Regions from separate parts of the Homo sapiens genome. Here regions 2, 3, 4, 5 and 6 are each reported to be linked to region 1. The links are microRNA targets in miRTarBase. Many come from high-throughput screens and were not tested one by one. Region 1 holds a microRNA gene; each other region holds the end of a gene's coding sequence.

What was found. Region 1 holds the annotated microRNA hsa-miR-1248 (ACCUUCUUGUAUAAGCACUGUGCUAAA, at 1,850-1,876, shown strand). A microRNA usually pairs through its seed, bases 2 to 8, with sites in the 3' UTR of a target mRNA and lowers its output. Matches are read on the target gene's strand: a 7mer-m8 pairs with bases 2 to 8, a 7mer-A1 pairs with bases 2 to 7 and ends in A, and an 8mer does both.
Region 2: the mRNA of PDE1B is a reported target of hsa-miR-1248. Seed matches in the 3' UTR shown: 7mer-m8 at 2,151-2,157.
Region 3: the mRNA of SHB is a reported target of hsa-miR-1248. Seed matches in the 3' UTR shown: 7mer-A1 at 1,841-1,847 and 7mer-A1 at 2,526-2,532.
Region 4: the mRNA of TTF2 is a reported target of hsa-miR-1248. The part of its 3' UTR that is shown has no 7-base or 8-base seed match.
Region 5: miRTarBase lists RASGEF1B as a target of hsa-miR-1248. Seed matches in the 3' UTR shown: 7mer-A1 at 1,103-1,109.
Region 6: miRTarBase lists OAF as a target of hsa-miR-1248. Seed matches in the 3' UTR shown: 8mer at 4,095-4,102 and 7mer-A1 at 3,627-3,633.

The regions. Positions count from the first base shown.
Region 1 is chr3:186,784,826-186,789,911 of GRCh38, forward strand. It overlaps MIR1248 (microRNA 1248), which reads left to right and starts at 1,847; the gene lies at 1,847-1,952. EIF4A2 (eukaryotic translation initiation factor 4A2) reads left to right here. Exons shown (of 11, transcript NM_001967.4): 4 at 137-276; 5 at 1,058-1,226; 6 at 1,339-1,448; 7 at 1,677-1,820; 8 at 2,302-2,439; 9 at 2,670-2,759; 10 at 2,978-3,057; 11 at 4,300-5,072. The coding sequence ends at 4,444. It overlaps RFC4 (replication factor C subunit 4), which reads right to left. Exons shown (of 11, transcript NM_002916.5): 11 at 5,075-5,086. SNORA63B (small nucleolar RNA, H/ACA box 63B) reads left to right here and starts at 1,498; the gene lies at 1,498-1,622. It also overlaps SNORA81, SNORA63, SNORA4 and SNORD2.
Region 2 is chr12:54,577,074-54,582,159 of GRCh38, forward strand. It overlaps PDE1B (phosphodiesterase 1B), which reads left to right. Exons shown (of 16, transcript NM_000924.4): 15 at 152-272; 16 at 787-2,166. The coding sequence ends at 255. It overlaps PPP1R1A (protein phosphatase 1 regulatory inhibitor subunit 1A), which reads right to left. Exons shown (of 7, transcript NM_006741.4): 5 at 4,903-5,058; 6 at 3,871-3,977; 7 at 2,173-3,319. The coding sequence ends at 3,314. Among named protein-coding and RNA genes, the nearest start is that of PPP1R1A, 9.0 kb to the right of the region's middle.
Region 3 is chr9:37,915,540-37,920,539 of GRCh38, reverse strand. It overlaps SHB (SH2 domain containing adaptor protein B), which reads left to right. Exons shown (of 6, transcript NM_003028.3): 6 at 536-4,642. The coding sequence ends at 719. Among named protein-coding and RNA genes, the nearest start is that of SLC25A51, 14 kb to the right of the region's middle.
Region 4 is chr1:117,100,523-117,105,608 of GRCh38, forward strand. It overlaps TTF2 (transcription termination factor 2), which reads left to right. Exons shown (of 23, transcript NM_003594.4): 23 at 858-5,086. The coding sequence ends at 1,002. Among named protein-coding and RNA genes, the nearest start is that of MIR942, 8.4 kb to the left of the region's middle.
Region 5 is chr4:81,423,035-81,428,120 of GRCh38, reverse strand. RASGEF1B (RasGEF domain family member 1B) reads left to right here. Exons shown (of 14, transcript NM_152545.3): 14 at 329-1,728. The coding sequence ends at 353. Among named protein-coding and RNA genes, the nearest start is that of RASGEF1B, 46 kb to the left of the region's middle. RefSeq lists a silencer at 292-586 and an enhancer at 362-946.
Region 6 is chr11:120,228,638-120,233,723 of GRCh38, reverse strand. It overlaps OAF (out at first homolog), which reads right to left. Exons shown (of 4, transcript NM_178507.4): 4 at 3,390-4,856. The coding sequence ends at 4,582. Among named protein-coding and RNA genes, the nearest start is that of POU2F3, 9.0 kb to the left of the region's middle.

The DNA.
Region 1 (5,086 bases):
CTGACCTGAAATGAAGAGAATACTCATTGCTGATCACTTGATTATTTGGGCATAATGTTCCAAATGGAATACATGGTGTGAAGTAGAAGTGACAATTTGATGTGGGATCGGTAAATGTGTATCCTACTTTTTTTAGGGTATGATGTGATTGCTCAAGCTCAGTCAGGTACTGGCAAGACAGCCACATTTGCTATTTCCATCCTGCAACAGTTGGAGATTGAGTTCAAGGAGACCCAAGCACTAGTATTGGCCCCCACCAGAGAACTGGCTCAACAGGTATTGATAGTGTAGTTCAAAAAAACTGCTTGCGTGTTGCATAGGTTTCAGGTTTCACAACTGTGAAGAATTTAAAACTTAGTATAAATTGGTCCTACCAGATCCCTCCTTTTAATTGTCCATGCATGCAGGGAGTTTTTGTTGAAAGTTTTAAAAGAACTGGGTATGCAGGTATGGTTTGTAGGGTTGTATACTAATAGATTGAGAATCCGAAGCGCTCTCTTGGATGTACTAGATCTGTCCCCATTTTTTAAGTTTGAATGCAGTTGTGCAACATGAAAACTGCAGTGACATGTTACCATTTGACTGTCTCCGTAGTTCGTGATGCATCTGTTGCATGCTATGTTTTCAAAGCTCACTGCTATATTGGCTTTGAAGTAAACCTTCCTAATAAAGCTGTAGGCTTTATTGAGGTCAGGATTATATAAGGCACAATACCCTCTGGGGGAAAAAAATCATTTGCCCTAGCTGTAATTACAGAACATAAATTTCACTACGTACTCCCTACCTACAGTGAAGAATAATGTAGGAAACGTTATTCTTGGATTGTCTAGCTGATGCGTGGAGCAGCAGCATCCCAAGTTTGACAAGGCATAAGAAAGACATTAAGGGAATTTTACCTTGCAGCAGTTAGGTCGTCTGCATTTTAAGCTTGGAAGTAGTTTTGTGCTGTGCATGCATAAAAGCTGTTGGCAGACCAGATTATATTTGCCTTTATGCTTTAAAAATTAGTCATTGATCCTGGAGTTCTGCGGAATAATAATTAAGGCTTGGGTTTTAGATCCAAAAGGTAATTCTGGCACTTGGAGACTATATGGGAGCCACTTGTCATGCCTGCATTGGTGGAACAAATGTTCGAAATGAAATGCAAAAACTGCAGGCTGAAGCACCACATATTGTTGTTGGTACACCCGGGAGAGTGTTTGATATGTTAAACAGAAGATACCTTTGTAAGTATTGTCTTTAAGAGAGTATTTTTTTTAAAACTGTTAACATAGTTGAAAAGTCAAATTGTATCACTGAGTAGATCTAGAAATGACAGTATGACTTTGTTTCTAACAGCTCCAAAATGGATCAAAATGTTTGTTTTGGATGAAGCAGATGAAATGTTGAGCCGTGGTTTTAAGGATCAAATCTATGAGATTTTCCAAAAACTAAACACAAGTATTCAGGTAAGCATTACTTCACCCCCCTCTTAAAGGTAGAGATGGGGTTTATTTAATGCAGGTACTGTTACAATACAACTGATGTGTTTTGTTGTCGTTCCCCCTGCTTAAAGCACTTGATGCATAACTCTGTCTACCTTCATTCCGTAGTAAGACAGAGACGCTTGGCTTCAGACATTTTCCTTTGGGTATTAATGTGTAAGTTGTGCTACAACATAATTTTCTCTTTTTAAGGTTGTGTTGCTTTCTGCCACAATGCCAACTGATGTGTTGGAAGTGACCAAAAAATTCATGAGAGATCCAATTCGAATTCTGGTGAAAAAGGAAGAATTGACCCTTGAAGGAATCAAACAGTTTTATATTAATGTTGAGAGAGAGGTAACTGTCTGATTGTTAGACATTATTTTACCTTCTTGTATAAGCACTGTGCTAAAATTGCAGACACTAGGACCATGTCTTGGTTTTTGCAATAATGCTAGCAGAGTACACACAAGAAGAAAAGTAACAGCACTAGATTGTAAAGACTGGGGTGGACCTCTTTCTTAATGTCCAATGTCCTTTGTCTTAAGATTTGGTGCAATATCTCATTAGACCTAACAGAATGAAGTTAATTTTTATAATTTCTACGTTTTGAGACTGGGTTATGAGACTGGCTAAGACTGGCCAATTTTGGTATTTTGGGTAGAGACAGTTTCACTTTCTTGAAACCCTGGTCTGGTTGGAACTCTGGGCTCTAAGTGCTAGGATCCCAAAGGGCTGGGATTACAGGCATTAGCACTGTGGCTGGCCCAGAATGAATTTTTAACTGAAGAGTTGGAAAAACTAAATGACTGTTAACTTTAACTTCTAAACATTACAGGAATGGAAGTTGGATACACTTTGTGACTTGTACGAGACACTGACCATTACACAGGCTGTTATTTTTCTCAATACGAGGCGCAAGGTGGACTGGCTGACTGAGAAGATGCATGCCAGAGACTTCACAGTTTCTGCTCTGGTAAGAGGTGTTCTAAAATGTCTGGATTTCCACTAAAGCAGGATTCAGACTACAATATAGCTGCTAAGTGCTGTGTTGTCGTTCCCCCTGCTTAAAATAAAGTTGTTTCTTAACTATACCTGTCTGCTATTCTCCTGTAGCAGCCAGGGACGCTTGGTCTCATACATGTTGATTAAAATTAAATACCGACCTGACTGGTGATTCTTGAATTAAGGTTTATTAATTTGCAGCATGGTGACATGGACCAGAAGGAGAGAGATGTTATCATGAGGGAATTCCGGTCAGGGTCAAGTCGTGTTCTGATCACTACTGACTTGTTGGTAAGTCTCTTAATGCTTTTTAAAAATCTACCAAAAGTTAGCTTTTTGGGGGGCAGGTTTTTAAGTAACCTTTGCCAACTTGGGCTATTTGGAAGAGTAAAAGACCACACTCCACAGTGGGCTATACCACTTAGTATAGTTCGCTACTATTTTGTGGCCTACATGACAGGTGTCAAGTTTTTTTGAATCAATTTTTAAAACATGCCATTGTGTTTCAGGCTCGCGGGATTGATGTGCAACAAGTGTCTTTGGTTATAAATTATGATCTACCTACCAATCGTGAAAACTATATTCACAGGTGAGAAGCCAGCATCTTGGCTGTATTGAAAAAAATTCATACGTTTTTCTACTGTGATTTGTATGAAAGGTAACATCAAATCAAGGAATAGATTCAGTAAAGTCAGTAGTGTTCAGTAAGATGATGTAATTAAATTTGTACTAGGGAAGGTTGATGAGAACAAAGTGGGAAAACTTGTAAACATTGCCCAGATTGTGGACATAGGGTTTTTTTCCACAATTGTTGGTCTTACCTTATGCTTGAGCTTTTAGTGATGTTCTTGTGTCCATGTGTTTTTCTTGGTGATTTTTTCTATAGTTGGGATTTTCTTGGTGTCGCCTGGTAGCAATTTGAGTGAACCCTGGTTTAGTTATAGTGGCTTTATCCCTAAATAAATTGAATTGTACTTTGTTATATGATGTAAAAAAAGACTTTTTAAAAAATACAGGAGTCGATAGCAGCAGTTGGTGACGAGATGGCACTCAGAAACGGCGTTGACGTAATTTAGGACGTGGAATCATAAGCGAAACAGCACACTGTTTGAATAAAGAGCGAGTCGGTATTTATATTTGTTTTTCTTTTGTCATGATTATTTGATTTTTAAGTTGCTCCAGCTAAGGCATTTTTTTGTATTAGTATTTCTATTAGGGAACCTTTCTTATTAGGTGGTTTGTATTGTCTGGTTTCTAACATGCAGGTAGCTGTTTGGCAGTTAAACACGTTTAGAGTAATTTGAGTTACAACGTGTGAAACTGAGCAAAAAAGCAGTGATAAGTTTGGGTTACCATACCAAATATTTGTTTTCCCACTGGAAAAAAGTAAGTTTTAGAAAATAGTTAACCTTTGCAGCATTTGTTTACAGTTTACAGTTCCAGAAGTGCGTCGAAATGGATTACATAACTGCTCTTTTATTCCTGGTGTTCACATCTGTCCCAGGCTGACACCTGCTCTTGGCTGGCCCACTTTGGTATGGGCTTTAATTTCACTACCCCAAACACGATACTGTCATCTGCTTTATAATAATGCTCAAGATGCCTGATAAAAATCTCATTTTGCAGCCAGACAAGCCTTGAATCCTTTTGGCACTAACTGCAAAGGAAGATTTTTTTCTCTAGATATGCATTAGCAGCTAGTGCTCCAGTTAGAAGCACGAACTATAACCTTGATAAGTAAACAGCAGCTGGTGGTTAACAAGTGGATCGTCATGTTCAGTAGTTTATACATTATGTGAGAAGTAACGTTCTGATTCTTTTTCTTACACAGAATTGGCAGAGGGGGTCGATTTGGGAGGAAAGGTGTGGCTATAAACTTTGTTACTGAAGAAGACAAGAGGATTCTTCGTGACATTGAGACTTTCTACAATACTACAGTGGAGGAGATGCCCATGAATGTGGCTGACCTTATTTAATTCCTGGGATGAGAGTTTTGGATGCAGTGCTCGCTGTTGCTGAATAGGCGATCACAACGTGCATTGTGCTTCTTTCTTTGGGAATATTTGAATCTTGTCTCAATGCTCATAACGGATCAGAAATACAGATTTTGATAGCAAAGCGACGTTAGTCGTGAGCTCTTGTGAGGAAAGTCATTGGCTTTATCCTCTTTAGAGTTAGACTGTTGGGGTGGGTATAAAAGATGGGGTCTGTAAAATCTTTCTTTCTTAGAAATTTATTTCCTAGTTCTGTAGAAATGGTTGTATTAGATGTTCTCTATCATTTAATAATATACTTGTGGACTAAAAGATATAAGTGCTGTATAAAATCAGCCAATTATGTTAAACTAGCATATCTGCCTTTATTGTGTTTGTCATTAGCCTGAGTAGAAAGGCCTTTAAAATTTTTTTAGAAAGCATTTGAATGCATTTTGTTTGGTATTGTATTTATTCAATAAAGTATTTAATTAGTGCTAAGTGTGAACTGGACCCTGTTGCTAAGCCCCAGCAAGCAATCCTAGGTAGGGTTTAATCCCCAGTAAAATTGCCATATTGCACATGTCTTAATGAAGTTTGAATGTTAAATAAATTGTATATTCACTTTAAAGGTGCTTTTGGTCA
Region 2 (5,086 bases), not on the chromosome of region 1:
AGGCTCTTCCCAAGTGGGGATGGGTTGAATGTAGTTCAGCTTGAAGGCAGGTTGATGGATGAGAATCCCTTACATGTCTCCACATACTCCTTGGGTTCTGGGGAAGAATACTTCTTGGCCTAAGCTCAGCCTCCTTTATGCTCCTCTACAGGCATCACCAACCAGATGTCCATTGACGAGCTGTCCCCCTGTGAAGAAGAGGCCCCCCCATCCCCTGCCGAAGATGAACACAACCAGAATGGGAATCTGGATTAGCCCTGGGGCTGGCCCAGGTGAGCCTGTTGTGGTGGAGGGTGTAGGAGAGCTGGTGTCTATCATGGCATCTTTGTTGGGTCGTCTCTGGGCTCCAGTGGATGCGACATTCTCTCTCCCCTTTTGAGCAGTAAAATGGAGCGAGTGAAGACATAGAATGGAGCCAAAGTGTGGGTGGAGCAGGGAAATCCTCCCACGCTCTTCTGTCCCCCAGTCCCTGCAGGAACAAAGGAGGTACCTTCTCAGAACAGCAGCAGAACAGGGTGGGCCCATGCCAGGTGACAGCTAACCTGCACCGCACCTTAGGGAGGGTTAGGGAAAAGGAGCCCAGCCAGGGCACACAGCTCAGTGAGGGCAGCTGAACGTGACTTCGACTTCAGCCCCTATTCACCCCCTTGGCTGGGCACCCTTCTGAAGGGCATTTTTTGCACAGCTCTACTCGGGACTGAGTGGGGATCAGGACTTGGAGAAGGAAGGTCAGGTTGGAGGTGAAGGCAAAGCTCAGGGCACTGAAGTTTCTCCCTCTTTCCCCAGGTCTTCATTGAGTCCAAAGTGTTTGATGTCATCAGCACCATCCATCAGGACTGGCTCCCCCATCTGCTCCAAGGGAGCGTGGTCGTGGAAGAAACAACCCACCTGAAGGCCAAATGCCAGAGATTTGGGGTTGGGGAAAGGGCCCCTCCCCACCTGACACCCACTGGGGTGCACTTTAATGTTCCGGCAGCAAGACTGGGGAACTTCAGGCTCCCAGTGGTCACTGTGCCCATCCCTCAGCCTCTGGATTCTCTTCATGGCCAGGTGGCTGCCAGGGAGCGGGGAGCTTCCTGGAGGCTTCCCAGGGCCTTGGGGAAGGGTCAGAGATGCCAGCCCCCTGGGACCTCCCCCATCCTTTTTGCCTCCAAGTTTCTAAGCAATACATTTTGGGGGTTCCCTCAGCCCCCCACCCCAGATCTTAGCTGGCAGGTCTGGGTGCCCCTTTTCCTCCCCTGGGAAGGGCTGGAATAGGATAGAAAGCTGGGGGTTTTCAGAGCCCTATGTGTGGGGAGGGGAGTGGATTCCTTCAGGGCATGGTACCTTTCTAGGACCTGGGAATGGGGTGGAGAGGACATCCTCTTCACCCCAGAATTGCGCTGCTTCAGCCCCATCTCCAGCCTGATCCTCTGAATCTTCCTTCCCTCCCTTTCTGATACAGTGACTGGGGCAAAAGGAGCCATTGTGACCAGGGGCTGCGGGAGGCCTTTCCTGGGACCTTCCTTGGGACTGGTCTGGGCCCCTGGGGCTTGTCGCCTGCCCTGAGTCCGGAGCCCTTTGCCTCCTTCCTCTCCCCTGGGGCTGGGAGGCTCCATCCGACCAATGTCTGTAAAGTGCTTTGAGGATCTCCCCAGCAAAGCACCTTCAGAATGTATCGACACCAGCTGGGTTAGGGTCAAGGGTGCCTGGGGAGGGTGAGTAATCCTGCATTGCTAAAAGAGAGGGTCTGTCCCCTCCTCTCCACGTCCCAGAACTGGCCCAGCTGCAGGCACTAAGAAGCTCCTCCCCTGAGACAAGTGAGGGGTAGTCGGTGAAAGGCAGATGGACAAGGGGCTCAGGGCTGCTGCCTTCCTGTCCTCTGGAGAGAACCCAGCCAGGCGCGGTGCCCCTTCCTCTCCTCAGGCTCCTCCTTGCCCCCACCTTGCCCCAGGAAAGGCCAAAGTCCAGGTGACTGCCCTCCTTCTTTCTTGTAAATACCAACCATGCATTTGTACAGTGGGCCCTGTTCATGCGAAATCCACATCCATGGTCTCCTAGACCTGCTACCCTGGTACTTCCACCCTACCCCACCCCGAGAAGGGCAGAGACGCATGTGACTCACCCCTGCCCTTGGTTTCCCAGACCCCTGCTATAGCCAGAGAACAATAAAGAAGGGAGACCAGGCCTGACTGTGTGTGTTCACTGGGTACAAGTTGACCAAGCATCTTCACATACATACACTCTTTCCAGCATGATAAAATCTGGGTGAGGCGTTCTCCCTCATATATATATATATATATATTTAGGTATGTATCTGGGCAAGCTGAGGCCCAGGAGGAGGCCCCGAGGGCTCATAGTAGCTGCATGGCAGAAGTGGGACCTGACGCTTCTCAGGCTCTGCTCTTGCCTCTGTACCACATGCTTCAGCAGGGAGGGGGAAAGAATCTTGCCTTCCCTCCTTTCCTCTCTCCCACTACCTGGGAAAATCAAAAACAGCAGCAGGAGAGAGGCCTGGCCGTGAGATCTGAGACAGTTTCTTCTCTTATGCTTGGTTTTGGTCTTATCTGGGCCCCTCAATGTCTAGGACAAGGGAACCCTTCCAGTCTCCAGCATGGGCCTCTTCATTAATAGCCACTGTGTTCTCTATCCATTGTTGCTAACGGGTTGAAATAAGGGACAGCGGTCCCACAGCTGGAAGAGGGAACACATCCTGAAGCTTGGGAATCCAAAAGGAAGGCAGCTGGGGCTTGGAGGGCAGGCGAGGAGGTATCGGCACACCACCATACCCTCTTTCCCATGGGCCAAGTGCCATGGTGCAGTTCCCCTTTTGTCCAGCAGATGGAGCCCACCGCACAGTCACAGCTGGACACGGCACAGGCCTTAGAGCGCCGAGTCTTCCAGCTGCAGGGCAGGCCTGTGAGGTGGTCGGATCGTTCCTCAATAAGAAAAGAGAACCTGGGGCTTTTCTTCCTTCTTGGCACCCTGGAAGTTAGTCCTCCCACCTATCTGACCCTCATCTCTCTTCCCACAGCAAGTAAAGTCAGGGCTAAGGGAAGAACTCTTCCCTGCTCAAGGCTTCTGCCTAGCTCCTGTTTCTTCCTTCCCAGAGGCAGCTTGGCAGGAGGGTGGGGGCTACAGAGAGGGCAGGGCAAGAAGGCAGGGAGAAAGGATTCTCCCAGTTGGAAAAGAAGGAAAGTGCCAAGGACCTAACACCAAATTTATCACTTTTTAAAAACAAGAGATTTTCCCCAAAAGTGAAGGAATAAGAAACAAATCCGGTGTCCATGCATTCCCAAACTGCAGTCTTGATCCCAAGATACCTCCTCCTCTCTCAGACCTGTTATGGGGGAAAGGGGACAGAAAGAGAAGGTGAGAGGCCAGAGGGTCATTTTGTCCCTTCCCCTTCTGGCCATCCCATTTGTCAACATCTAATGTCTCAGAAAGCTTGTTCTGATGTCTGAGAGCAGTCCTTCCTGTGTCCAGTCTATGCAGGGGGCTGCGGATTATGAAATCAAAGCTCAGGAAGTTATCTCATCAATGCATCCTCCAGGCAGGGAGAGCCACTGCCCACTTCAGCTGGGCAGGTGAGGATCTCCCTTCGGGTTCCAAATCCCCTTTATCAAAAAATCCATGGCCTACTGCTCTCACCCATTCCAGGAGCCAGAAGTCCTACACAAAGTCTAATCTCAATCCTTCTTGCTGCAGCTATCCATTTCTTTTTGTCTGTCAGAGGAGATACAAGTCCTTTTACCATAAAGAATAACTTTTTAGGGACTGAAGCTGGTTCTTTGTTTTCCTTTTCCTAGACTCCAAATATTAGCCCCTTGCTTTTGTCCACAATATTAGCCTCCTCTCCTATGACCTGGCAGCCCAGCCCTGGGGTCTTACCGAGTTGGCTCCCTTGGAATCCAGTGGTGGTATATGGGTTGAGGGTTCTTTTGTGCTGGGTTCCTTACTGCCTCTCTCGTGAGTTTTAGGGATGCATTCTGCAGTTTCTGGGGAGGGAACATAGGGGTGGGAGGAAGAGGTGGCATTCATAAAGGTGTTGGGGAGGGAACTGCTTCTCCTCACTGCACCCATACCCCAGTGGCCCCTGAGAGGGCCCCAGGACCAAGTTGGGTGCAATCAGGCAAGACCAACAGGGTTTTCTTTGATCACAATTACTACTATATGTTCACTTTTAAAAAATCTTCAATCAAATTGGAAAGAATAAACCCTCTACAGTTTAAAAAACAAAACTCAATATGTGTCTAAACCTGACATGAACTCATAGGAGGCTGTTTTTAGTCTTTATTCTGCTTAGTGAGACCATTCACTGGATTGCAGAAATATTATGTGTTTGATTGTAGGGTTCTCTGCCGGGAATACTATGCGATACACAGTTTATGTACTATATCTTCATAAAATTGGAAGCATTCTGAATTCTGGAATATATCTAGGATAAGGGACATAGCGCACTGCTACCAGCTTCCACTTATTGCATGCTCTGTGTGTGTCGGGTGCTGTGTCAACAGCCAGTCTCATTTAATAGTCACACACAACCCACTGCAACAGGCACCCTCATTATCATTTTATACCCTGAGGTTAAGTCGTTCAAGGCCTCTCAGCTGGTAAGGTAGCAAGTGGCCGAGCCAGGATTCTAGCCTGTGATTGCTGTTCCCATGAAGGTGGGTTTCCCCCATGTAGCCACAGTGGGGCTCTGAGGTTCAAGTTGGGAGGGCTTGGTGTCACTCAGTAAGGAAAAGTGAAGATTCAAATATATGCCGAACATGCCAACAGATCCATATCCTTGAGACAGTTTTTGCCTACTACTAGGCCTCTCCCAGGCTCCAACTCTTTCCCCTCCCCGCAGTGGGTAAGGCTTGCCTCCTGCTGGGCTGGGAAATAGGATGCCTGGGGCCCTCCCCAGCCTGAACATACTTTTTGCTGTCCCAGAGGTGCCCAGCCTTGACTCCACTTCTGTGTCTGGGATCCCAGGTGGGCGGGACTCCTGGGTTCCTGTGCTCTCAGCGGCCCCCTCAGGTTCCTCTCCTTGCTGCTGTTGCCCCAGGTGATGTTCAACCATCATCTGGAGCTCTGGGGACACAGAGAAAGGGAGGGAACA
Region 3 (5,000 bases), not on the chromosome of region 1:
CCCTTCCCAGTGACAGTTTCCTACTACTGAAAGGGAAGGACAGATCACTTGCCATCCCTGCCACACAGTTTCCTCCTCTGGAAACTGGGGGTGATGACCCCTGCCCTACCCACTTGTCATGGCATTGGGGACATGAACACACTTTGCACCTGTCAGGCAAGGCTTAAACAGGGATATGCACTGGTAATAGAAAAGAGGGACTAAGTTTTGTTTTGTTTTGTTTTGTTTTGTTTTGTTTTGTTTTGTTTTGTTTTGTTTTGTTTTTCTGAAGAAGTCCCTAGAAGCGCTCAGTGTTGGAATGCTCTCTTGTAGCAGTGGCGGCTGCTGCTGGTTCCGGGTCAGATGCCGGAATTGGGGGTGCGCTTGGGTGCAGCTGCATTTCATCTGGTCCTGGGCCTCGGTCCTGGCTTGGAGAGGTGCAGCTCACAGCCACTTCATGGCTGGGATCCCTTCTGTCCCAGACAGCTGAGGAGACCCTTGGCCTCAGCCTGAGTGTCAGGGGGGTAGTTCTGATAACTCTGTGTTTTGTTCACAGGAGCAACCAGGGTTTTATGCACATGAAACTGGCCAAAACCAAAGAGAAATACGTTCTGGGTCAGAACAGCCCTCCGTTCGACAGTGTCCCGGAAGTCATCCACTACTACACCACCAGAAAGCTACCCATCAAAGGGGCTGAGCACTTGTCCCTCCTCTATCCCGTGGCTGTGAGGACCCTGTGAGCGGACCAGACCTGCCCTGCTCTGTGACAGAGCCTGAGACTTGGAGGTGCCAGAGGCCCCCCACCAACCAGCCCAGCCACTGTTGCTGGCTGTGTCGTTTGTGTTGTGTGTATGGTACTAGCACACCACTGCATGTCTCTAGAATGCTGTTGCCACTTACGGGGGCTGGAGAAGGCCTGGATAAAGACAGAAGGGCGGCAACACACCACCCCAGCCCCCACCCCCACCCTCTCCTTGAGTTTCTGTGAATTAAAATATTTGCAAATCCAAAGAGATGCCTTCCAGGATGAACAAAGGCAGACCAGCTCCGAGGGGCGGGGTAGGGTGGGGCGGGAGCTCCCTGGCTGACATCTCTTTGTTCTCCAGCTGTCTCAAATTCACACCTCTGTACAGGGCAAAGTTTTCCCACAGGAGCCCCCCTACTGATGCTGGGAGCCAAATGCTGGTGCTTTGAGAGTCCCGGAGGCCCCGGGGTTCCCGCCCCGCTGGTGTGTATATGTGTGTCTGTGTGAGTGTGTGTGTGAGTACAGATGTGAGAAGGTGGTCACACACAGATGGGTAAGCCCACTGATCTACTTGTAGTCACTCAGTGTAATCATTAGGCTATCTTCAAGGAATCATTGTGCAGTCAAAAAGAGGATTCAATTATTTATGAATAGGGTGTGTAAATAAAATAGTCATTTAATATATAGCCTTATCCTTTTTTGATATACTGCAGAGGGTCTCTGAGGGGGCAGTTCTGGTTTCACTCCCAGAGCAAGGCGTGTCTCCTCTGGGCTTGCTGCTGTGGCAGGCCCCAGGGAGGGGAGGGAGGCCGAGGCCTCAGCTCCAGCCCTCAGCAGCTCTGGACACAAGAGCCGTCTGCTCTGACAACTGGGCTGAGGCAGTCGGTAGCACTCTGGGAGTCAACCCAGAGCTCAGAGTTCAGGCTTCAGCAGTGGACATAGTCAGGAGCCTCCAGTGTTGACCAAAAAACCAGTCTTTCCCTCCTGCAGTGGGACGTCTGTGTTGACACCCCCCCAACCCCTGGACACAGCACCCAGCTGGCTACAAAGGGCTCTCTCCCCACTATCTGTTAGCACCACCTGGGAGGTATTTGGCATGTAGGGAAAGGGAGACAGAGAAGGAACGTCATTTGCCCAAAGCCACACAGCTCACCAGCAGCAGAGCGGTTCTGCAGCCAATGCTCTTTCGTTGGTTCTGCATGGCCTTGCTGTCACCCTGCCCATGGAGGAGGGAGAATCCTGACCTCCCAGGGACATAGAGCCCTCAGTGGTCCACACTGCTTCCACACACAAGAACACCTACACACACACACACACACACACACACAGCCCTCAGTGGTCCACACTGCTTCCACACACAAGAACACCTACACACACACACACACACACACACAGCCCTCAGTGGTCCACACTGCTTCCACACACAAGAACACCTACACACGCACACGCACACGCGACCTCTCTCTTGCTTGCCATAGCAGGGTCCTCCCACACAGGCCAGGCAGCCCCGATGAGGCTAAGAGTTTCTCAGCTCTCCTGCTTTTTCCACCCACCCAGTAGCATGAAGATGTGGCTGCCCTCTCCTGAATGAGATACAAGGGTTCCAGAGCCTTCGCCAGGCACCAGCTGGTCTGAATGAACTAGAAGTTTGACGACTGTCATCCCTGGCCCACCTGGGCAGAGCACAAGGGGCCGAGTTTGAATGTCATCAGCAGGTTCAGACATCAGCGCTGCTCATGTCTTTAGAGACTGTTTGGAGGTGGTTCCAGCTCACTGTTCACATGCAGAGACACAGGCCCGGAGAAGGAGGACTCGCCAAGGCCACGTGTCGAGCTGGGACTGAGCCCTGCCCCTTTAGGTAGCTGCGTGGACTTCAGCGGTTTGTGCAAAGCCCTGCCCTTGGTGACCCGCCTTTAGTGACCAGTCTGCCTCTTGGGTCTTCCTCCCAGGCCTTGTCTGGCACGTCCACGTGGCCCAGCCCTCATAGAGACCACGCTGGCTGTGGCCTGGGTTTAATCTCTTAAAGAAGCCAATCCTTTCCTTGCCTGTTTGGCATTTCCTAAAACATCCCTCAATGAGGGAGGAAGGCAGGGACACCCTGGAACGATTCGTGCTTTCCTTTGGGGGAGTGGGAAGGTAGGTGGGAAATGACAAGATGAGTGAGGAGTTGGCACTTGGCCAAACAGAGGAGCCTGGACCCCAAGGCTTATTCTCAGAGGAGGCCCAAGAGAGGCTGAGGAAGAGGGGGAACAACCCTCCGGCGGGGGAGGAGGGTGAGACCTCACACTGGCAAGTTCAGGTCCAGCCACTTCCTGAGGCTGCTGGGTGGGGCCGCACCTCACGGTCCTTCCCTGTAGACCATCTTCCCGGGCACATTGCTCCTCAGAAAAGGCTCTGGGAGGGTCTCAGTGGAAGCTGGCAGCTGTGCCCTCTGGCCCTGACTTGGCCTCTTAGGGTATTCCTGGGACCCTCCCTCTGTCCCTGGCCTTCGTCTTCCTGAAGTTTCCCTGGGAGGCCCAACCTCCTGCCCCTCTCAGGGACAGAGGCCAGCAGAGGAGCCAGCTTACAGGATGGGAGCTGCTGAAAAGAATTTTTTTCCCTTAATTTTATGAACCTCTCCCTCTTCTTCCTCTAATTGTGACCGTTTCCTGTGTCAGCCTGTATTCATGTTTTCTTGGACATCTAACAATTGAAACAGCTTTTCCCTTTCAGAAACACTCACATTCAGGTTACTGGCTTTGGTTTGGTTTTTGTTTTGGGTTTGTTTTTTTTTTTTTTCATCTGCTGCCAATTAATTGGGGAAAAAATTGAGCTGGATTTCTTTGAGAGAAAAGAAAAGCTCCTGCCACACAACGTCGCGCCCTCGGCATTTTGTCTGAGAACCTCCAGCACTAGCGGCTGTTTCTGTGTCTCCCTTCTTTGCTGGCTTTATTATTGACCATAATGCCTGCCCACTTGAGCAACTCTGTCCTTGAGCGCTGAGGAGTCAAGGGCCCTTCTGGCAGCCCCCCAAACAGGATGGCGCCCACAGAAAGAAAGGAGGCTTTGTAGGGGAAGAGGGCCCCACCGCCTGCCAGTCCCGTCCTGAAGTCAGAAGAATGGCCCAGGCTGACACCCTCTCCTGGAGAGAGGCTCACAGCGTAGCTGTTCCCAGGAAAGGGGTGCAAAGACTCCGAGGCTTCAGGAGGCAGGCCCTGTCCTCACAGGGCGGCTGTGGGCCGGGGCCCCTCTGTGGCCTGAGAGTGAGCAGGAGGGAAACCTGAAGCAGCTACCCGCAAGGCGTCCGGTCAACAGGGTGGAGCTGCAGGCTCCCTCTGCCCATTCCCAGAACCAGCGGCCCCCTTTGTAAGATGCTGAACACGAAGTTCCGGTAGCTCCCCAGACGCTGTCTCAGAAGTGGTGATATCATTGACCAAGGGCCTGGCAAGGACCGGCAGCCAGGGTCCCCATTTGCTCTTGCAGCCCTAGGGACTGTGCAGGTAGAAGCCCTGCCAGCAGAGCAGGCTGGCGTTTGGTGTTGGCCCACAGACACCCGTGAAGGGTCATGGCCGAATCAGGCAGCTGTCCAGCCAACTGTCTCTCCACCCTTCCAGAATTGGTGATCAGCGAAGACCAAATTCGGCAAGCCATCCAGAGGGAGTGCAGGGCGCACAGTCTTAGATGTGGGCGCACCTCCCAGAACCCCACGGGGACTTGTTCACAGGCGCGCTTGCAGGAGGGCAAGCCCCTTGGTCCTGGAACACAGGTGCCCCTTGGCCTTTCCACCTCCCTCCTTGGGGCTGTTTGCATCCCTGCCAGGAGCCTTAAACCAGCCACCTACTGCTGAAGTCTCTTGTAACATTCCAAATCTATGTGACACACTGTATAATGATGAATATTTAATGTGAAGCTCTTAATATACTACAAGTGTCTTGTTTACCATTTGTCTTTTTTTTTTCTTTCTTTTTTTTTTGAGACAGGGTCTTTCTCTGTTACCCAGCCTGGGGTGCAGTGGCACAGTCTCCACTCACTGCAGCCTTTGCCTCCCAGGCTCTGGTGATCCTCCTACCTGAGCCTCCCACATAGCGGAGACTACAGACATGCACCACCATGCCCAGCTAATTTTTCCATTTTTAGTAGAGATGGGGTTTTGCCATGTTGGCCAGGCTACTGGTCTCACTCCTGGGCTTAAGGGATCCTCCCACCTTGGCCTCCCAAAGTCCTGGGATTACTGGCGGGTGCCTGGCCACACAGTGTCTCCTTTAAATGCACCTCCTTGAGCATGCATGATTTTTGT
Region 4 (5,086 bases), not on the chromosome of region 1:
CACCACCCGTGATCTGGCCCTACCAGCCTCTTGAGCTTTTGCCATTGTGGACAACATGGTCAATGTGAACTTCCTCCAATACACCATGCTCTGAAACTCAGCCATGGTTTTGCACGTGTTCCCATTCCCTGGGGTGCTCTCCTCACTGCTCTTTCTGGCAAACCCTTGCCCAACATACAAGTCTCATATTAAGAGTTAACTGTTTAATGGGGCCCTCCCTGACTACCCTGGACACATTTCCTTCTCCTCCTTTTGCACACGGCACATACTTCCATTATAGCACTTACCAGGTCATATTATTGTTTATTTTCATGTTTGTCTCGCTTTTGTTCTGCTTTGGAGCAAGACTATATTCATCTCTCCATCCCCACACCTAGCATAGTGTAGTGAGTGCTTAATCAATACTTTTGAATGAGTGAATGAATGACAACAGTGCCATTTACTTGGTTTGAAAACCCTGTTTTTATTGTGAATTCACTAAGAAATACTCTACTTAAACTAGCAGAAATTTGATAACCTTTGAGGCCTTATGGACTTACCAAGGTAGAACTTTTTGGGTAAAAGCTGGATCTCTATACTTTTTTGGATTGGGATATCTTTTGCTTATTTTGAGTTTGTTTCAATTACCTTAGCTTCAGAAAGTATTAAAATGCCAATGTGGGTCACATCCTTTTAAAGGGATATATATCTAGTCAAGGTTGTTTGGATTCCTCAGACAGGGTTCTTAACTGGACCTAAGAAGACTTAAAGGAAGAAATCTCATTAAAAATGAAAGCATAATAAAAGTTTGAATATATTATTAGATGTGCTGCTTAGGGTTTTTGATAGTTTGCTTATTTTTTGTTTTTGTTTTTTAGATTTGTTTGTGAGGGAACAGTAGAAGAAAAGATCTTACAGCTCCAAGAAAAAAAGAAAGATTTGGCCAAACAAGTTCTATCAGGGTCTGGAGAATCTGTCACCAAGCTCACCTTGGCTGACCTCAGAGTCCTTTTTGGCATCTAACCTCCTGTGGATAAGGGCTCAGAATAGCACCATTGCTGGTTTGTATTAGGATCTGGGAATAACAACCTAACCATGAGCCTTGAACTCTGTTCTTTGCATTTCAATTTCACCGTCAAGCCTTTCACCTTCCTCAAAATGAGGCATAATCTTATCCCCAGAATTGAGGAGGGGTTGTGTTAACCAATTAGTTAACCAATTATGTTAATAATTTATTTAATGAGTGGTATGGAAACCAATTGATTTTTTTAGATAAAAGAATATGTTTTAGAGTTGGATGATTTTGGAAAACAACTCTGGCAGAATTGTATATAAGCTTCAGTAAAGTTCAAAAAGCGGGCCAGGTGTGGTGGCTCATGCCTGTAATCCCGACACTTTGGGAGGCCAAGGCAGGAGGATGGCTTGAAGCCAGTAGTTCAAGACCAGCCTGGGCAACATAGTAAGACCCCATCTCTATGAAGAATAAAAAAATGAGCTAGGCGTGGTAGTGCACACCTGTAGTCCTAGCTACTTGGGAGGCTGAGGCAGGAGGATCCCTTGAGTCCAGGAGGTTGAGGCTGCAGTGAGCTGTGATTGTGCCACTGTTTTCCAGCCTGGGCAATACAGTGAGACCCTGTCTCAAAAAAAGGAAAAAAAAGCTCAAAAAGTTCTGTGTTGCCTTTCTCTTCTTAGCTGATGATGGGAGAACCAGTTACTACCTTCTCTAACACAGGCTCCATCCTATCTCTTCATCTCTTCTTGCCAGTGATGTTGCACCTGTAACCATCTTTTTATGGGTGGAGCAGAGAGTCAATCCCTGCAGCCACCCTGCAGCCAGCCATCTCTGCAGTTCTCTCAGTGCAGGCAGTTCTTCCTCTCAGGCTGAAGATCAAGGAGATGCTTTGTACATGAACAGATGCTGAGTATCTGTTATCATTGTATTGTTTAGTGTCAGTGTATCATTTAGTATTTGTATCACTGTACCATTTAGTGTTGTATATCACTCAGTCATTTAATATTGGTTATCACCATACAGTTTAATATTTGTATCATTTGGTTCATTGTATCGTTTAGTATTTCTATTATAACATTTCTATTTGTAGTATTTGTATAATATTTGTGTCATTTTTAATAGTATTTGTATTTTTACAAATTTGCAGTATTTGTAGCATTTAGTATCATTGTTTCATTTAGTATTTGGTACAATCTAATAAATACTAATCCAGTCCAATACTAATCCAATCCAATACTAATAATACTATTGGTACAATCCAATACTAATAATACTATTGGTACAATCCAATACTAATAATACTAACAGTAGTATTGATACAATCTAATAAATAATGTGTTTGACAGTGTAGCAGAAATAATGCTATGTGTTCACCAAACCCACTTCCTTTTCCTCCCGGGCACCCAGAGAGACTGTATTTCCCAGTTTTTGCTGCAGTTTGACGGGGTCCATATCAATGGACTGTGGAGAGAAGCGATTGATGTAAGTCACTTCTAGGTGGCCCTCTACCACTTTCCAAAAGATCATTCATGCTGTTTCTTCCCTCCTCAGCCTATGGGATGCAAAGGAACTGATGGAAGATTACAAGGCCCTAGGGAAGGTGAAGCCACTAGCTCAGCAGTTCTTAGCCTAGTTTTTGGCCATCAGCCCTTCTATTAGACTAGTGAAGCCTCAGTCCCAGGATGGCTCCCCATGTACACTTCCCTCCTCGCCCCAGCTCACCTACACTGGACTATGACATGATCAAGGAATCTTTTTTTTTAAGCTACTGAGATTTCTGTGTTGTTTACATAGCAGTTTGTACCCTAAACAAACACTTGAGATTTTATACTTCAGGAAACTATTCAGATTTCCTTCTCATTAGCAATTGTTCCAAAAACACTTACTCTGCTAATTTCTGCTAGAAAGAATCACAGTTCTTCTAACACAGAAACATTTCTGTCCCTTGAGTTGGGAAACAAGACCCTATGTTAACCCAGTCAGAGTGTGGACTGAGGCATTCGGAGCCTATTTAAGCAGAAGTTTTCTATAAGGACAAGATTTAAAGGCTTACAAAGGTAAAGACAATGGCCTGGTGGGAAGAATTCTAGTCTAGAACGTTTGAGATTTGACTCTAGTTCTAGGTTCATCTTAGCTGGGTGTGTAACGTTGAAAAAATTGGCCGGGTGCAGTGGCTCAGGCCTGTCATCCCAGCACTTTGGGAGGCCGAGGCAGACGGATCACGAGGTCAAGAGATCAAGACCATCTTGGCCAACATGGTGAAACCCCGTCTCTACTAAAAATACAAAAATTAGCTGAGCGTGGTGGCGTGCGCCTGTAGTCCCAGCTACTGGGGAGGATAAGGCAGGAGAATCGCTTGAACCTGGGAGGTGGAGGTTGCAGTGAGCTGAGATCGCGCCATTGCACTCCAGCCTGGTGACAGAGCGAGACTCCGTCTCAAAAAAAAAAAAAAAAAAAAAGAGAGAGAAAAAAATCCTTACTTTCTCTACACTCTGATTTCCTCATTTGTAAGGTGGGCAGTTTTCAGAACTTAGCAGCAATAAGGTTTCTGATAAAATCAAGAAGCAAAGGAAGTAACATTGCCTTTTTGAAGTTTTGCTATAAGATTGACATACCAAGGTAAAGATTGAGTCACCTGAGAAGCAGTGGCTCCCAGGCCAGCAAGAATGTACAAACCTGGCTCTGCCATTTGCTGATTGATATTAGGCAAGTTGCAGATTCCTTGGACATCTCAATCCTTTCATCTGTAAAATGTGTGGATTAGCATGTATCTCATGCTCCACTGGGAATTTCATAGCAAATATATATACTACAACATGGTTGACCAGATAGATCAGTAATGTCAACTAGAAGGTATTAGATGAACATTGTCAGTCTCCAATCAAGCATTGTTTAGGGGAGAGGAATTCTTTCAGGTTCAAGCATTCTGGCTTTTAGTTTGGAGAGGGATGCAGGGATTGTAACTTAAAATCTTCAGATATTGAGGCCATTGACAAGTAATCTACTGTAAGGTAGATGCCTCCTGGTATTTTAAAACAGCTTTTCTAATTTCTCATGTTATTGTACATAAGCAAAGCAACCTAGTTATGTCTTGGGTAGGTGTTCTTATAGCCGTGAGATGCTACTGACTTGAGGTGGATGCAGAAAAAAATGGAACCACTGCCTTAATGGGATGGAATATACTAAACATGCATTCTTAAATCCTAGTGCTGGGATGGATTACATGAATTACATTGTGGAGCTGCATATGTGTCTCCCCTCTTCCCTCCCTGGGGGTTAGGCTGGGTTTGTTTGGTTTTTTTTGTTTTGTCCTCATGAGGCTTAGCATCTAAGGGAGACAGGCATGAATTAACAGAAGTGGCATTCTGGTATCTGTCTCAGCCTCATATTCATTTTAGTGTAAATCAGTTTCGTCAAGTCTAGGTATGACAAGGTGGGTCTTTGCACCTTCTAGCGATGGGCAGCATCCCACAACACAGTGGTCTAATTGAGGTGCTGCACTATGAGTCCTGCCTGTGTTAACCAGCCTTCCTTCATGTCACAATACTGCTGCTGGATTTGCTTTTTACATCTGCCTATTGCACCTGACTTGGGCATGGATGATATGAGGTAATAAATGCTTTGAAAACCATGAAGGGCCACACAAGTGCTAGTGTTATTGCTGTGGGACAAGGTCTGGGAATATGAGAACCAGCAGCAGCATGGGTGCAGCTGAGAACCAGATGGTGAACATCTGTCTCCAAAGTGCAACATTCCTGAGCACCGGATTTATAAGGCATTTCTTACTCGACAGAATTGACTTCATGGAAGGTATGTAGTTTGACTTTGCCTTAGCCATGTTGATCAAATAGGAGTATTGTGCATGCCGCAGCTAGACAGAGTCCTGGGCCCTTTAAAAACCTTGTCAGTGACTCCCATTGCAGGCCCAGCGCAGTGGTTCACACCTGTAATCCCAGCATTTGGGAGGCTGAGGCAGGCAGATCACTTGAGGCCAAGAGTTCGAGACCAGACTGGCCAACATGGCAAAACCTCCTCTCTACTAAAAATACAAAAGTTAGCCAGGCGTGATGTTGGGTGCCTGTAATTGCAGCTACT
Region 5 (5,086 bases), not on the chromosome of region 1:
TCTGTGATAACCTGTACCTAAAAGCTCTTTATCATTAATGATCTTTGCTTTTTTTGTTTTTGTTATAATATAAACCTACGCAAGATATAGATTTATCTGTTTAAGCTTTTGCCATCTCCATTAATAAATGTTTGTTTTTTAAGTGACTGGCAGTTTTCCCAGAGAGCCAATAGGACTTAAAAGCTTGATTTTTTTTTTCCTGGTTTAACTTTGTAAAATCAAACTTAAAACACAGGAAAGATAAAATTAGTATTACACAAGGCATTTTCATCCTAGTTCAAGTAGTCTGTTACATTCTGTCTTAGGTTGTGTTGTTTTTATTACTCAGGTCGAGCCTCTTAGGCAGAGTTTAACACATGGGAGCTGCCTGCCTGCTGCTGCTGCTGCTTCCTGCAGATCATGGAGGGGCTGGCCTTTGTTTTCTGGCATCTCGTACCACGAACACTCATGAAGACCCTGCAGTCATTGGAGCACCCGGGTCAGCAAAGCACACAAGCTCACTCAAGACCAGATGGAGAACTTATTTCCTGCAGCTGACAGATAGACTCAGATTTTGTGAGACTGAAATGTTCACTGAAGACACTTGAGAAAGAATCCTCTAAAAATCCCGGCTCTGCACATTATTCATCTCCTGGAATTTCCATGTGAATCACAGCTCTGCACCTGGATGGAGTTTTCTTTTGTGTGTGTGTGTTTTTTTTAATTTGGTTGAACATTTGCTGCTAATGGGACTTGCCCAGCTGAGTGCTGGCTCTGAGGAAGCCCACGTTTCTTTTGTTAACTTAAATGAAGAAAGGAGTGGAGGGAGGGGATCTAAAACCCCCCCGTTTAGATCCCAAACCTTAGCTCAATCAGTATTGCCAGAGAGGGGTAAGACTGGTTGGAAGCTGACTGCAGACTTTGTTTCCCCTTAGTATGTGCTGTGTTGTAAATTTTTCTCCTCCCTCCTCCTACAAGGTTTTGAGTTGGCTGCTGGTTAGCAAACTCCTTTTTACCCATATAAGTTATTTAATATAATAATGAAGCTCAACACTGTGGTAGGAAAATAGCCACTAGAAAGAAAATAAAAAGCAGAGTTTGTCATTGGACTGCTTAACATGCTAGAAGGACTTTTTTTTTTTTTTTTTTTTTTTTTTTTTGCTCTTCTGAGCTGTTTACAACTGACCACTGTGTTCCACAGATGTATTTTTCAATAGCTTTTTGTTACTTAGTTTTCCATGATGCCTGTTATTTTTCTCTTGTAAATTTAAATGAGCTGACTTTAAGGATCTTGGGAAAACCCATGGCATAATTACAATTTTCTTTTTAATCGACTTTTCATTACTTTTGGGAGTCTGTTGGTAACTAAAGATGTCAACAAAGAATAAATTGGAGAAGTTACCTGTCCCCACTATAGCAGTAAACAAAACAGATGAAAAACACCTTGCTGTTAACTCAATGGTTGATCTAATTGTGAAATCGTTCACCTTGTTAAACATCTAAGTAAGTCTGTAGTCGCTCTGCAAACAGCCATTATATTTATTTACTCTAGAAGAAACTGTAGAGTAGTAATTCGTGCTAATGAGAAAAACAAAATACCATGTTCAAAACAGATGTATTTGAAAACTTAATGACATGGTTCCAAAAACTAGAGCATGTATGTATGCTGTGCATCATCTCAGCAGACCTAAAATATCCCCAAGTTGTCCCTTTACAGCCATCAATATATTTTACACTCTGCGGCCAGGAGTTGTGGCGTCTTTCTTTTCTTTTATGGGTGGAATTGTTGGGGGCGGGCATGGGCTATAATCACAGTGGATCAGTTCAAGAGACTGGCTAAGAATGTATCTGAGGAAGTTATCTTAACAGTTTGTGCATGGGCATTTATTTTTTAAAAAAGAATGATAGTATTATTTGCCAGGCATTTTCTAAGTGTTTAGCATAGATTCATCTCTACCTATTAGGGGTGGAAATAATAATAACTTGTACAAGGCCACATAGCTAATGAGAGGCACAGATACTTGAAATGGGCCTTCTAATTCCAGACCTCAAGCTTTAAACCACACCACCACAGCATCTCAAACTTCAATATCCTTGCAAATTACCCGGGAATCTTTTTTACATGCAGATGCAGATTCTGTCGGTCTGGGATGAGGCTCAGGGAATGCTGATGCTGCTGGTCCTGGGATCCCGCTCAGAGTAGGAAGACACTTCTGCCTCATGATACCTGTTGAGATTTTAATTTATGGGGGTAGCTGAGTGATGACACACAGAGGCCAGTGCCACTGAAAGCTTTATATTATTCAATTTCCCCAGAGAAAGGGCACATGCCATGCCATGCAGGGCCACAGGGGAAGCACCGGTGTCGGTCGGGGGCAGAAGCAGGAGCAAGAAGAAAGCATAGGCTTTGACTGAGGTTTCTGCAGGGAGGCAAGGCAGAGCAAGGCCAACAGTTTCCAATTGGCAAGTCTGAATAATTCCAGCAGGCTCTGGGCTGGAGGGGCGGTCTCCATTTGCTTGGTACCTAGCCCCTGGGGTGAGTTAGGGCAATTTCTATATTGGCTTGGTGTGTGAAAGTTAGATAAAGGGGAAGGTTGCGGCTATGTTCTTGACAATAGTTAGATATGCTCAGGGCTCAGTCCTTTGCTGTCTCCAAGAATTAGCTAGTCCTGGGAGTCTCTTCCCTGCCAGCAAAATTTATAAGATACCAGAACATCATAAGATACAGAAAAAAAACCGTGATGAATGCAACTTCACAATATTGCCTCCTTTTTCCTTGCACTGCCTTTCCCTGATCCCTCTACCACTTTGGTTATTGTGACAGCAACAAGATTCATCTTTCAACCATCTACACCAGGGGTCAGCAAACTATGGGCTGATGGCCAGATCTAGCCAGCTGCTTGTTTTGTATGGCCCACAAGGTAACAATGCTAGAAAAAAAAAAAGAAGATCTCATGATGTGAAAATTATCTGAAATTCAAATTTCAGTGTCCTTAAGTAAAGTTCTATTGGAACATGGCCACACATTTATTTATATATCTTCTTGTGGCTGTTTTCTGCTACAGCTGCAGCGTCTTATACTAAACAGACTGTATGGCCCATAAAGCCTCAAATATTTACTTTATGGGACTCGATGGAAACTTTACTGACCCCTGATCTCAGTGTTTCTTTTAAGCATTGCAAAGATAGTTTGCAAAAATGCTATGAGAGCTCTATGATGGCATTAGATACCTAAATGTAGCAGCTGAAAAAAATTTCCTAAAGTGGTATTAGGCCTAAAAAAAAGTGATTCTAGGGCTACTTAAACAAGAAGTTTTTACAGCAAGAGTTACATCCTCTACTCATTTTAATGTCTAGGTAAGCCAGAGCTTTAAATCCTGTATTAATTTACCTGTGAAAATATTTCATATTCTCCCTTTTGTGCCGTGTGTGCGTTGGATTCCCCAGTGGGTGTATAGATGAATTTATAATTTATGTGGCTGGATGGAAGCCTGGGTAAATACAAGCATAAACAACATCAGGCAATGCCAGTCGATAGACTGCGATTCCAGGATGTGTTCTGTCCAGGCCTGCCGTTCATTCCAAAGGCCTGCATTTCAAAGCTGCAGGCTTGGAGCTGGGACTGCTGGGAAGGTGGGGGGCAGGGTTCAGAACTGGTTGGGCTTAGGAAGGTACCAGGAGAGTGCACCTTCTAGTACTTGAAATGTCCCTCCATTTTGAGGACACAGGAGTGGCCTACCTTTCATCTAACAAAGACAAGAGAATTGAACGCTGATTGTCTTTGTCTTTGAAGGGTTTATTGCTTTACCTCTTCACTTCACCTGGCTTTGGCACCTCTGTCATTTCTTCATTTACTGTTTTTTCTAGCATACTTTTAACTTCTTTCTGTACTTTCTCTTTCCAACTGCTGTCCACATGCCACCTGTGTATAGAATCCCAAGAAAACATAACCCACCATTAGAATTTTAGTTGCTAAACTATATAAGAACTTTGAGCTGTAGATTAACATCCTCTACCTTCCTTTGGTGCCATTTGTTTACCCCTTTTTCCGAACAAAAAACAATACCTGCCCCTGTTCCAAAGGTGTCTTACTATTCCAATAAAGAATGCATGCCTGGGAATAAAAAGAAGCTTAGACTACTGTTCCAATGGAGCTAAGTGTTCAAAGAAATTCCTGAATTCATTTCCTGGGGGAAAAAATGTGGTTAGTGACCTGGAAACTACTAACAACTTATAAAACTCAATACTCTGATGGCGACTCTGTTCGCTTTACCCCTAAGACATCTTGAAAGGAAAGACTTTTGTCAGAGTTGGGCTTCTAAAGTTTTAATAGGAAATTGAGGCACTTTCTGTATAATTCAAGCCAAAGATTTTTTTTTTTCTGGGTTTGAATGATTGGATAATTGCCTCAATTCTCTGTTCCATGTAATTGAGATCACTTGACTCTTCTTAGTGCTAATAAAGAGATGTTGGGATTCACGGTTTATTAACCAAACTTTTCAGTTTGTGGACCTGTCATTCAAAACTGCAAACAAGGCTGATCCCATGCAAAATAGACTACTGCCTTTATGCTGTACTAAGAATCAGTCCCTCTTAAAGGATGCATTTATAACCTTTATGCAATGAGGAAATTTCCAGGTAGCCAATTTTCTTTATAGTGCTACCAGCCTTCAGCAAGCTTAAACTCTGCCCTGCAAGCCTGAAACCCTGCTTCTCTAAGATTCTACATAACAGGAGATTAAACATCCAAATGTGTATAATCGCATTCTGGACAGTATGAAGAAGCTGTCTTGGAATATTGTTAACTATTAGAATACTTAAAGTGTGCACATCACCCAATTTAGGATTTCTTGGTAATAGTAGCCTATACTTTAGAAAATTAAAGAGGAGGAAGGGGCCGGGCACAGCGGCTCACACCTATAATCCCAGCACTTTGGGAGGCCGAGGTGGGCAGATCACTTGAGGTCAGGAGTTTGAGACCAGCTTGGCCAACATGGAGAAACGCCATCTCTACTAAAAATACAACAAATAATTAGCCAGGTGTGGTGGCCTGTGCCTGTAATCCCAGCTACTTTGGAGGCTGAGGCAGGGAATCGCTTGAACCTGG
Region 6 (5,086 bases), not on the chromosome of region 1:
AGCCAGAGGGTGAGGAATCCCAGGTGAGGGCAGAGGAGGGTGGAGGGGAACAACCATCCCAGCTGTCACCTGGCTACAGCCAATAGCTGATACTGAGAATAAGCCCTGGAATGCTGTCATGTTTCTCACTGGTCAAACAGCGAACAGTTTATGACAATACCAAGCGATGGCAGGCATGATGATTCATTTTATGTGCCAATTTGGCCAGGCTCTCATACCCAGCTGTTTTGTCAAACATTAGCCTAGACGTTGCTGTGAAGGTATTTTATAGACGTGACTACCTTTATAATCAGTTGACTTTAAGTAAAAGATCACCCCTGTATTGCGGGTGGTCCTCATCCAATCAGTTGAAGGCCTAAAGAGCGAAAATGGAGGTTTCCTGAAGAAGACATTCTGCCTTAAGACTATAACACAAGAGTCCCGCCTGAGCTTCCAGCCTGCTGCCCTGCCCTACAAATTTCAGACTCCCGGCTGGCCACAACATTAAGTTTTGCCTCAGCTGCCAGACTGCTAGTTTGTTAGGATTTTGGGCTTGCCAGACCCCAAAATCCAGCAAGCTAATTCCTTAAAATAAATCTTTCTCTATGTGTGTATCTTACTGGTTCTGTTTCTCTGGAGAGCCCTGACTGATACCACAGGAATATGAGAGAACGGGAACTTTCAGACACTGCTAGTTGTGTGTAAACTGGAACGGCCCCAGCTGTAGGGTGATCTGACAGCATCTACAATGTTCACGCCTGTGACACAGACATTCCAGTTGCCTGTTTTTTCTTTTCTTTTTTGGAGATTGAGTCTCACTCCATCACCCAGGCTGAAGTGCAGTGGTGCGATCTTGGCTCACTGCAGCTTCCGCCTCCCGGATTCAAGCGATTCTCCTGCCTCAGCCTCTCAAGTAGCTGGGATTACAGGCGCCCATCACCACGCCGGCTAATTTTTGTATTTTTAGTAGAGAGGGGGTTTCGCCATGTTGGTCAGGCTGGTCTTGAACTTCTGACCTCAGGTGATCTGCCCGCCTCGGCTTCCCAAAGTGCTGGGATTAGAGTCAGTTGCCTGTTTTTTCTATTCCTGCCTACAACCTGGCTTGTAAGAGCAAGTCACAGTAAACAATTCGATTTTCCATCAGTAGCCAAATGGCCAATAGACCATTTGGGAGAATATTAGGCGATTAGACATGGAATGCCCGTGTTGGGGAAGACCTTGGAGATAACCCAGTGAGACCCTCTCTCTTATGGGATGTGTGTGACCCACACAAGGTCACACAGAGCTGGGCCCCAGCGGGTGCCCATGCTCCTCAGATACAATGCTGGCCTCGAGCCTTTGGTTCTTGAGAGTGGCACTTGCCCTCCTTTTTGCCGGAGTCCTTGTCCCCTCATCCACCAGAGCCAGGTCCAATAAAGACCCTGGGGTAGAGGTCCTCCAGCTGTGGCCCACAGTTCCCCCACTGAAGGCCTCCCTTGGCTAACAAGCCTGAAGGGAGAGATGCCTGAAGAAAACCCACAGGAAGTCCATAGTGAGGTCCAGCCCAGCCCGGGTGAGGTTGCCCAGGGAACCAGGCACAACTCATCCTCCCGGCTTGCAGCAGCACCAGTCAGGGCTGGGTTTCTGGCCTCCCCGAGGGTGCTTTGCTTACCCTGGCAAACGGAAATCAGGCAGTTCTTCCTGCCAATTCTGGTCCCAGGAATCTTTGGACACTGTCCCCACCACCCCCTGCCCACATGTTCAATGATTGCTACTACAGAGACTGGCCCAGCAGGTGCTCTACACTCCACACTCCTCCCCGTCCCACCGAAGCCTAGGTCCCCTCCTGTGGGTGAGCTGTGCTCTCGGAAGTTCTGGCTGGCCAACCTCATAAAGCACTTTGGGTTGGGAGGGGGTGTGGAGTAAGAAGGACAGGGGTTGGATCTCAGTTCTGTTCTAACAAGATGCCTGGACTTGAACTTGGGCTGGTCACACAATTTTATAAGGGAGCCACATCTATAAAATGTTACAGAGTCACTACAAGGAGCCAATGGCCAATTTATATGAAGGCACATTGTAAACCCTAAAGTCCGCAGAGAAATAAGTACTGATATTACCACTCCCAAGTGTTTTACACGGCCACAAAAGCCTCCTGCGATAGGGAAGTCTTATCTCAGTGTTTGCCAAACAGCTGACCACCTACATCTATTTCAACAAGCTCCTAAGTGATTCTGATGCACACTAAAATTTGCTTTTCAGCAAAGAAGTGACTGTCACGGCAGGATTTCAGGTGCTGTGACAGTGGGGCTAAGGCGGTTGGGCGAGTGCTTTGGAATGGTGGACTCGAGCCCTTGGATGTGGCCCTGTGGGAGGTGCCTACTTTGCAGAGTGTTAAGGTCAGCCCAAAGTCTCAGGGATTCTTCTCATCACCATCCCCTGAGACTAAGGAGCCCAAGGCAGCTGGTGTCTGTAGTGATGGTGTCCAGAGCCCCCTCACTGCAGGGGCCAGACAAGCTAGGAGGTGCTAGTCAAGGAAGGTCAGAAAAACACTCCAAGTCTTGAAAACATTGCTTTTTAAAAAAGCATTATTTTTGGTGACTTGGAAATCAGAAGGGAAAACATACTGATTTGGGGACTCCCCTTCCATCAAAAAAGGCACACAGGAGGTAGCAGGTGCCTTCTCCAAGTATCCCTTGCCCACCTGGAGCAATGGCTGGGGCTTGGGATGGAGGCCCTGGCAGAAAGGGAAGGAGAAAAAGGACTGGGGGGTGACTGATGGGACAGCTCCCTCCCCATCCCCCAGCAAGGCTGAGCTGGTCCTTGAAAACAGGTTCAGAAGGGAGGTGTGCCCACCTGAAAAGGTTATCTCCCCGCTGACCCTCAGCTCAACCAAGGCCAAGCAAGCCCAGCTCCCTCAACCCTCTGGCCTGCATGAGTTCAAGGGGCAGTTGCAGCCTGTTCTGGGAGTTCTGGGAGCAGAGTAAAGGGGACCACCCTGCAAACCCCTTCCCTCGCCAAGGCCTTCAAGGAAGGATCTGACTGTCCCCATCTCTTCCTTGAGAAAGTTGGGTCACCTGGGGAACCCATGAGACTCTTCCAACCCCTAAAACACTCCTGCCTCCACCTTGCCAAATCGTTACCATCTTCCAGCCTCAACCCACACCCCAACTCTTCCAGAAAGCCTTTCCCAATACATGCAGCCTGCACATCCCTCGCTCTGGAACCATCCAGAACCCTGCCCGGCACTTCCTATTACAGCCTCTTCATGTTGAAAGATACTTTGGAAGTGAAGAGCCTTCCAGATGTCTGATTTCATTGAGTCAGGCTTATAGCTGCAGGAATGTCTGCTTTTTTCACTAATAGTAATGATACTAAGAATGGCTAACAGCACTATGTGCTAGATGCTTGACATGCAAGAATTCACTTCGGTCTCTTAAGTAAGCTCATTTTATAGCTAAGGGAGTGGAGGCACAGAGAGGTCAAGCAACTTGACCCATGGCTGCACAGCAGGTAAGTAGCCGAGCCCAGATCTGAAGCGGGGTTCCAATCTCCACCCCATCTCTTGCCTTCGCGCTGGCTATTTCTGACTGGCTTACTACGGTTGCAGCTATGTCTGTCTCATTGTCTTGGGTGCAGAAGTTTTATCTCATCCTTCCCTAGTAACATCTTCCTTCTCCTCCTTCCTTCCTCAAATGGCTGAGCACACAGTAGGTGCTTTCGAAGTTCTTGTTCCAAGATAGGCCACTGCTAGGGTGTGGGGACACTTTCTGACATCAGGTGGCAGCATTGGCCAAAAGTTTTCTCCAAACTCTGGGTCTCATTAGTCAAGTAAAAACTTAAAACGTTTATTTCTGGTAGAAATGATAAATACTTTGCACTAAAAATCTGGAATTCAAGTTTTCCTCGTACTTCATGCTCCCTCCCTGCCCCAGAACCTTACAAAAATATTTCTGTGTAGAGAGGGAAAGAGCTGGTGCCTGCTCTGGAGGCAACGTCCAGGTCCGGGAAAGGCACTCGTGGTCTGTGATCTGTCTCAGTGATGGGAGGTCTCCACTCGCCCCACAGGCAGCCTCGGGGCCAGAGATGAGAATATGCTGTAATCCAGTACAGGGGCTGCGTCGTGGGTCCCCAACAGCTCCTTCTTTGGGGATAGTGAGCCCCTTGTTGGGGAGTAGGAAGGGACTGAGGGGCCAGCTCCTTCCAGATGTGTGCATGGGGAAGGGAGTTGTGTCTGGGGAGGTGGGTGTCCAGGTATAGACTCCTTTTAGGGTCTAAACGTTCAAGGAGTTCAACAGAACAACCAGAGGCCATCATGTTTTGGCAGCTTGCAAGTGAACACTCCAGGGGAGATGCAGGAGGGAGGGGTGTAGATCTGGGGAGCCCTTCTCTCCCTCTCTGCCCGCAAGGAAGGCACAGGGTGGGAATGGGGGTGCCTTCATGAGACCCCCTGCCATGCCACACCCCCTTCACAGTCATGTGAGATGGGGCCAGAGGGGCCCAGGCTCTAGGGCCAGGGGAGTGGGGAGGGAGGGAAATAAGGCCTCAGGTGGGGGTTGCCACCCCCTCTAGTGGCTGGTGAAGAGCAGTGGGCCCAGAGCAGCCACCCGCCAGGTTGCTCCCACCCTAGCCTGGGTAGGGATCCTCATCCCAGAGACACAGCTGCCTCTGGGGCACGTAGAAGTCGAAGCTGTAGCTCTTCTGGCAGCTGCGGATGCCACACTTGTAGGGCGTGGGCCGGTCGCGGCTGTGGCAGTACTTGAGCATGCAGGGGTACCAGGCCAGGCTCAGGCCATAGCGGCAGACGCAGGGCTTCCCGTGGTCCCCCACCTGCCTGCAGCGAGGCAGCTCCGCCTGCTCTGAGGCCTTGGGCAGAGCCTCGAACACAGAACTGTCCACACCTGGGGGAGAGAGGCAAGGATCAGGGAGGGAGGGAGGGAGGGAGGGAAGGAGCTCCCCTAGTCAGAGGCCGCTGCCATTCCCCACTTGGTCTCCTCTGTCATCCCACAGGCATTTACAGACACCTCCATTTCCAAGCTTGCCATGGGACACAGAGGTAAGACCTGGTTACTAGGCTCCTCCTTGCTGGGCTCGTGGGAGAAACAGATTAAATAGGAATCACCCTCCTCTA